2 linked regions of the Homo sapiens genome follow. The protein of the gene in region 1 binds, or shares a complex with, the protein of each later gene. Each region holds a gene or a part of one and is shown on either strand. Other genes may lie near its edges. The genes, in order: TARDBP and ANXA11.

Region 1 (3,653 bases):
TTAAAGACAACATAAACTTCCCAAGGACTATTTGGCAATACATTTTAAGCAAGACCAGGCATGTTCAGGGAGGGTGGCAGGCCACAGACTGGCAATACATTTCAAAAGCCCTTAAAAAGCATGCATAATCTTTGACCTAGCAATTCCAATGCTAAGAATTTATTTTAGCAGTAAGGATATTCCCAGCAATTGGAAATAACCTGAATAATGTTCAAATTCAGAAGACTGAATCAAAACATGGCATTTCCACAAGATGAAAAGTGGCATTAGAAATAAGTGGTGACATTATAGAGAAATCTGTATTTTTCCTCTTTACAATGAACATGAAATACTTGGGCACAGTGATGCCTAACAAAAGCACACATCACACAACAGTTAAGTACAGAACCCTAATACACACTTAGGGGCTACTTTGCTCATACTCAACAACAACAAAATCATTCTTACTGTTACACATTATCTCTTGGATTACGGAGTAGTTAACTTCCTACTTTTTCCTACTAAGGACACAACTTAAGTGCTGATTTAACTTTAAAAATCTCATTTGGTTTTAGCTGGCTATTCCTTCCTAAAAGGTTTTAATAGCTAACATTCAAGTTTTTCAGTCTAACTAAAAGTTACCATTCCATGTAAAAGCTTACTGTGAGTCTTGGCCTCATTTCTCTTGTGCATATGAAGTACAACTTCTTGAGACTCAATTTTTATTATTTTCTTTTTTCTTTAGAGACTCAATTTTTAAAGGTAACTTTCCAGCATCTGTATATCACATATAAAAAGAAATCGTGTTTTTCCAGTAAGACTCCAGACACTAAACTGTGGTGTCAAAAAAAAATTTTATTTATCTGGTTCAAAAAATTTTTTAGAATGAATGCATTTAGATTGACCAAATAGATTTTTAAAAACAAATCTTTGCCAAATAGTTTAAGTACTTTTAAACTTCAAAATCTTCTTAGGGTAAAATAAATACCCGTATCTATGCAGTACCATAAACATGTTAATAAAAGGCCACTCAACATTGAAAGCCTTCTATGACCAGTAACTGAAATTTACACAAGTGTAAAGAAGGGATTAAACCATGCCGTTGACAAGTTAACTTACCCCTGGGCTCCTTGAAGGCTTGTCAGTTTAGTCTTTGGAGGTCCCCGAGTACCATTTTAAGTGTTACCATGTTACTGCTGCTGAGTAATAGTGCAAGTGCTAAAATGCAAAATTCAGATGGTACAGGGTTTGGAAATCATGCAGATTCAGATGCAGAAAAAAAAAATTAAAACAACTCAAGATCCCTTTACAGAGGAAACTGAATAATGAAACAATGTGGCGATTACAAGTCTAAAGGATGACTTCATTGATAAATGTTTATGTAACTTGCAAAATGACAAACCTATTTATCATAATCTAATTAGGTAAGGGCATTAGGTAAACTACCAACACAACAAATATCACATTCTTCCAACTAGAAAATGAGCTCAACTCTCACAGAATTAGTTACAAAAAAGTACAACAGAGAATCAATGTTATTGCTTTTACATACTTAACAATGCATTGTGAGAGTGTGAGTTTTGTAAGCGATTTTATTCAACTGTATTCAATGTTACCACATTCCCCCACCTCCTGGAGGACAAAGCCCATTCCACTTAACACTTCCAGACAGACAACCCACCCTAATTCTTAAAGCTATCAGGCCTCTTAATGGATTTCAGGCACAAGATAATTTGTGGTTTCTTCTACTTTATCCCTACTGCAATTAATTCCACTTTTCAAATCCCAAACTAGGAAGGTGCTGATATTCCCTTTTCAATTGATATGCTTTGCTACAAAGCATTAGAAAATAATCAACATTTTGCCCACTCCCCCAAATAAGAATCTTTTTAGAAGGCATGACTTCCCAATGGAGATTTACACAGGCCATGTAAATAGAACATCACCCAAATGCACAGAGGCACTAAGAAAAAGCCGGAGGGTACTGCTTACCATTTTAGGTGCGGTCACCCAGACTTATTCAAAACTAGATTTCAAAAGAAAAAAAAAAATTTTCACTTTGGCCAATGCAAGAACAAATACCAATTAAGTCTGGGTATCAGGTGTCAATGCATGACAGGTGATGAATCCATTTGACTTGAGACAACTTTTCAAATAAGTTTATTTGAAGCAAAATAAACTACTGCCAAGAAACTTTATGAAAGTTCCATCTCAAAAGGGTCAAAAAAGGGGAATTAACTGCTATGAATTCTTTGCATTCAGGGCTGCAAAACAAAGACACATATTATTTAAATCAGTTTTATTTAAGAATTTCCAACAATGACAACTCTTATAAAAAGCATCCAAGCACAGGACACAGAACTGCAGCAAACAGCATTCTTATGGGTAGCTAACAGACATTAGAACTTCCACCCTTCTTTGAGACACCTGAGCTCACTGGTGAACTCTGCTTCAAGTCCTCCTGCAAAGCACACCACAAGCTCAGTCCATGTTCTCAGCCCATCAGCTTCAGTTCACATTGCCACACTTACATATCAGTAACAGAAGAGAACACACACCATACAGCATTCACAGCAGTTGACAAAGGGGTAGGGGGAGTACAAGTATCATTTCACTTAACACATTCATCTAATGTGGGTTATCTAAGAACAAAAACTCACTTAAAAGTCTTCCAACAGATGTGGATGTCCTTTGAATGCAAAAAACATTCGTACATTATTTGCTATCATTGCTCTCTGCACACTCTCTCACCAAAGCCACAGGATTGAGAGACACATCTCGCCAAGTTAAAAAATATCCATTATGCACCACCAAGTCTCTGCACGCGCTCTCTCCTTTTCTCGCTCATACTAGCCTTTCATGCCTCGGCACCACCATCAATCCCACACAAGGTTTCAAAAGTTCAGACAGCCTTCTGGTTCCATATCACAGCCTTGCGTTCATAGCGTTGATACGACTCCATGAAATAAAGAGTAGCGGATAAAAATGGGACACCCACCGTCAAAGACGCGGCCTGTGATGCGTGATGACGAATTCTTGAATGAGAAAGCATGTAGACAGTATTCCTATGGCAGAATATTTACAGCACTACTTTCAATGAAGTGCTTCTTCCATAAACATTTGAAATGAGATGAACTGCAGAGATTAAATGAAGGCTTCATATTGTACTTTTGTGTATGAGGGGAGACAAGTGTTAAAAAACAAAACAAAAGAACCAAACACTGTGACACCATGATCTCCTAAAAGGAGATTTTCTTAAGGAAAAAAATCCATATGGTGGGGTTCAAATTAAAACAAGGGGTAAAGAATGTAGTTCTAATCAATGGTTTCCGTTTTGAACATGCAAAGAATTCACTTGACAAGTCCAGGGATAAAATATTACAGGAGAAACCTTTTGATATCAATTGTAGTGTGTTGGTTTACCAATCAGGCAAACAGCAGTTCACTTTCAACCACTCAATATTTCAACCTTTCATGTAACAAAACTTATAAAATTCCTTTAGCTCTTCCTTTTTCTAAAGAAAAATGTCAAAAATACTGCTGAATATACTCCACACTGAACAAACCAATTTTGAAAATTCTTAGTACATATGTATTTTACAATATACTTACCATGAGTTTAGAAAAATTTGAATTCCCACCATTCTATACCAACCAACCACAACCCCACTGTC
Region 2 (3,914 bases), on another chromosome or scaffold:
GGCACAGTGGCTCATGCCTGTAATCCCAGCACTGTGGGAGGCCGCAGCGGGCAGATCACTTGAGGCCAGGAGTTCAGACCAGCCTGGCCAACATGGCGAAACTCCATCTCTACTAAAAATACAAAAATTAGCCAGGGATGGTTGCGCCCTCCTGTTGGAGGCTGAGGCACAAGAATCCCTTGATCCCAGGAGGCGGAGGTTACAGTGAGCTGAGCTCGCACCACTGCACTCCAGCCTGGGTGATAGAGTGAGACGCTGTTTAAAAAATAAAAGTAGGCCAGGCATGGTGGCTCATGCCTGTAATCTTAACACTTTGGGAAGCCGAGGCAGGCAGATCACCTGAGGTCAGGAGTTCGAGACCAGCCTGGCCAACATGGTGAAACCCTGTCTCTGCTAAAAATACAAAAATTAGCCAGACATGATGGCGGGCGCCTGTAATCCTAGCTACTTGGGAGGCTGAGGCAGGAGAATCACTTGAACCCAGGAGGCAGAGGTTGCAGTGAGCCGAGATCACACCATTGCACTCCAGCCTGGGTTACAGAGTGAGACCCTGTCTCAAAAAAATAAAAATAAATAATAAAAAAACTTAAAAAGAACAGCATATACCAGCCTCGGCAACATAGTAAGACTCTCAAAAAAAAAAATTAGCTGTGTGTGGTGGCACATGTCTTTAGGAGGCTGAGGCGGGAGGATTACCTGAGCCCAGGAGGTCCAGGCTGCAGTGAGCCATGATTGTGCCAGTGCACTCCAGTCTGGGTGACAGAGCGAGACCCTGTCTCAAACAAACAAAACCCAATATGCCCAGTTCTTCAAGATAGATATGAAGGGCAGCTAGACTCTTATAGTTGGATAGCGTGGCTAGAACAGTGGTCTTCAAAGTGAGTTCCCTGGACCAGTAACATCATCTGGAAACTTGTTCCAAATGCAAAAACTGGTTCCACTGTCTCAGAAACTCTTGGTGGTGGAGCCCAGCAATGTGTTTTAACAATCCCATCAGGTGATTCTGATATGCATTGCAGCGTGAAACCCAGTGTGTAAAAAGAAGCCACATACTCGAGACGAGCAGGTGTGATTGTTGAGGGACCCTGCAGGTTTCCTCACATGTCCGCCTGCCATTGGGTGTCTCTGCAGACTGCAGCAGCAGCTGCTATTAGCAAGAGCAGGCAGGTTGCACAATGTGGCTGGTGTCACAGCAGATCTGTGTCCCTCCTCACAATTTAACTGGCAGGGGACATTGCCAAGGGATCCGTGTTCAGAGGGACTTCGTGAGAGCAGGTGTCTCACCTGGCACCTGTCCAGGCTGCTCTTCCTCCCTTACTGACAGATCTGCAAATCACTTACTTCTCTTAATCAGCAGCCTCTACTGCAGAAACAGGGTGATGCTGCCTCATTTGCCCTGGTTCTTCACCCTGCATCAGATGAACCTCCTGAGGGCCCTTTTTGCTTCTAGGAACGATGATTCCATACCTTACCAGGTCCCCTTGCCTGATGAACCAGAGGTTGGAGAATGAAGAGAGACAGGGGCCTCTGACTTCCCCTGTTGCTGGAGGGATGGCAATAAGGACACAGGAAGATAAATAGACAGACCTGGAGTCCTGAGAATGAGGCAGTGCGTCTCTACCTCTGAGGTGGGAGAACAGGCCCAGAGGCGCACTGCACCCTTGCCAGCAGAGGCAGGAGCAAAGCTTCAGTGAGAGGGCCTTTCAAGGAAACTGGCTCATGGGGAGTGAATCCTGTCACTGTGGGTGGGGCCGGGGGTGTGGCCCTGGCCCAGAAGTCAGGCAGCATGCTGGTGGGTACTGTTTCTAGCTGGAGGCACCAGCAGGAGACAGTGAACTGGTCTGCGACAAGCAGGGCAGATGCAGCAGTTTCTTCTGCAGGGTCCCAGTTGTGGTGGTGGCTGCCCTTTCAAGAAGCTGGGTCCCACGGGCCAGCAGGGGCTCTCAGGCAGAGCCTGAATGTGCTTTCGTCTTCTCTTCCAGATCTAACCATGAGCTACCCTGGCTATCCCCCGCCCCCAGGTGGCTACCCACCAGCTGCACCAGGTAAGAGGGTCTGGGGTGGGGAGGAGAGTGAATGCTGCCTCTGTACAGTGGCTGGGAGTGGAGAGGGGAGAACAGTAGTTTCCTCACTCCCCTCCTCCCCTCACAGCACGGCCCAGCAGGGGAGGAGAGGACAACAGGAGTAGTGGGACAGCCAGCCGAGGCAGGGGCTGGAGAAGAGCATGACACTAAGGCCATCGGAGGCCTAGGTTTGAAACTGCCTCCAGAAAGCCCTGGACCAGGCCCAGGGCTGGGTCTCTTGCCTTACTCTCTAGTAACAGTGGGCAAATGCTGTCACTTTGAGACTCAGTTTTCTTCTCCGCAAAATTGCTTCAAGGATTTCTCCCTCATTAGGTGGTCCTGGATACTGATGAGATAGGCAGGCAGAGCGACACGGTGTCCTCCAAAGCATTGCTAGGTGATGGTTGCCCCTTACCACCTCTCCTACCCTCTGCTCAAGGTGTGTGGGTTTGCAGCAACAAGATCCCCCTTGCCAAGAGAGGAAGTGGAGGCAGATGCTAAGGGTCAAAGGTCACTCCCTGTTTTCTGCAGGAGCTGTGGGTAGTCACATGGAGAAGTCGTCTTCTCTGGCCCTGGCCCCTTTTGGTCCTCAAATGAGATTTGGTCCCCACTGTGGGAAAGGAAATATGAGGGCTCATGAGACCAAGGGGAGAAAAGGGTCATTCCAAGGCTGGTCATCCTGAGGGTGCCTGAGCCGCTGCCCCTCTCCCCAGGGGACTCCTAGGCATCATTGATTTCTTTGGAGCTGAGGTCCTGTGGTTTGAACACCCCAGACCTGCAGGCCATTTACCTTCCCTCCCATTCAGCAGGTGAAGAACAGACTCAGACCTAGAGGTGGCTCAGCTGCTGTCCCAGGGCATGTTAGGGGCTGAGCTGGGCCACTGCCCTCTGAATGAGCCCACCCCAGGTTGGCTGGCACTGGCCTGGGTTCTCTCTCTATAGTAGAAATCCTGCCATCCAGATCCTGCCACTGCCACCTTTGCTAGCACAGCTGAGCAGCCTCTGAGCAGCAAGAGAGGAGGAGGCAGGAAATTTAGGGAAGGTTCTTCCTGGAGGGTCTGGAGCCCTGGAGATGAAGAGCCGATCCGAAGCTGCCATGTAGAGGAAAGCATCTAACAGGCCAGAGGCCCCATGATGATGTCGAATGCCCATCGGGCACCCAGCTGAGCCCTGCAGGTGTTAACTCAGTCTTCGTCACAGCAGTCTAGGCATACACTCACCATTAGCCCATTTGTAAGCTGAGGAAACAAGCCTAAGGAGGGTGAAAGCCTTGCCCCAGGGCACATACCGGTCCTGCTGGTTTCAGAGCGGGCTTTTCACCTCTGTTTCTTCCTGTCCTCTTGTGGACTGGTATCTGTGTTTACCATGACCCAGCCCCATGTCCCTCCAGCCTCTTATCCTGCTTCTCCCTGCCTTTTACAGACTTGTAATAGCAAACAGCCAAACCCCCTCCCGCCAGTGCCTTCGCATTACTGAAATCTCAGAGCTCCCTATGGTCACCTCTGTCATGGGCTCAGCATGGTGTCCCACAACAGTCTGTCCTTGTCTGTCCTCCTGCTCCATGATGGTGAACTTGGGAGGGCAGAGCCTGCCTGGGCTCTCCCAGCCTCCTTAATACCCCACAGAGGGTCTTGGGAGTGTTTGGGGAACTCCACCTTCCTCCCTGGGAAGAGGGGAAGGTTTCCCCTCCTCTGCCAGTGGGATAGGGGGAGACTTTCCTCCTGGTGTTTTCATGTGGTCTGTGGTGTCCCGAGGCTCGAGGCTCGAGGCTTTACTGGGCCTCCCTTTCTGACCACCTGGGAGCTCTCATCTCTGCCTTTCCCCGTGTGGTGGGGGACTGGCAGGGGGCTA

What was found.
Region 2: the proteins of TARDBP (region 1) and ANXA11 are in contact, whole or in part, in a cryo-EM structure (PDB 9FOR), measured with the Homo sapiens proteins. Residues at the interface, in NP_031401.1 of Homo sapiens: Ala328, Leu330, Ser332, Trp334, Gly335, Met337, Gly338, Met339, Ala341, Ser342, Gln343; in NP_001148.1 of Homo sapiens: Gly56, Met57, Ala59, Met61, Ser62, Gly63, Phe65, Asn69, Pro71, Asn72, Leu73.

Annotation. Positions count from the first base shown.
Region 1 is NC_000001.11:11,022,654-11,026,306, reverse strand, and holds the end of TARDBP (TAR DNA-binding protein 43), read right to left. Parts: coding exon 3,653-3,653; 3' UTR 815-3,652; downstream 1-814. UniProt on the Homo sapiens protein: RNA-binding protein that is involved in various steps of RNA biogenesis and processing.
Region 2 is NC_000010.11:80,170,938-80,174,851, reverse strand, and holds part of ANXA11 (annexin A11), read left to right. Parts: intron 1-1,982; 5' UTR 1,983-1,990; coding exon 1,991-2,045; exon of another isoform or gene 2,046-3,581; coding exon of another isoform or gene 3,582-3,914. UniProt on the Homo sapiens protein: Binds specifically to calcyclin in a calcium-dependent manner. Required for midbody formation and completion of the terminal phase of cytokinesis.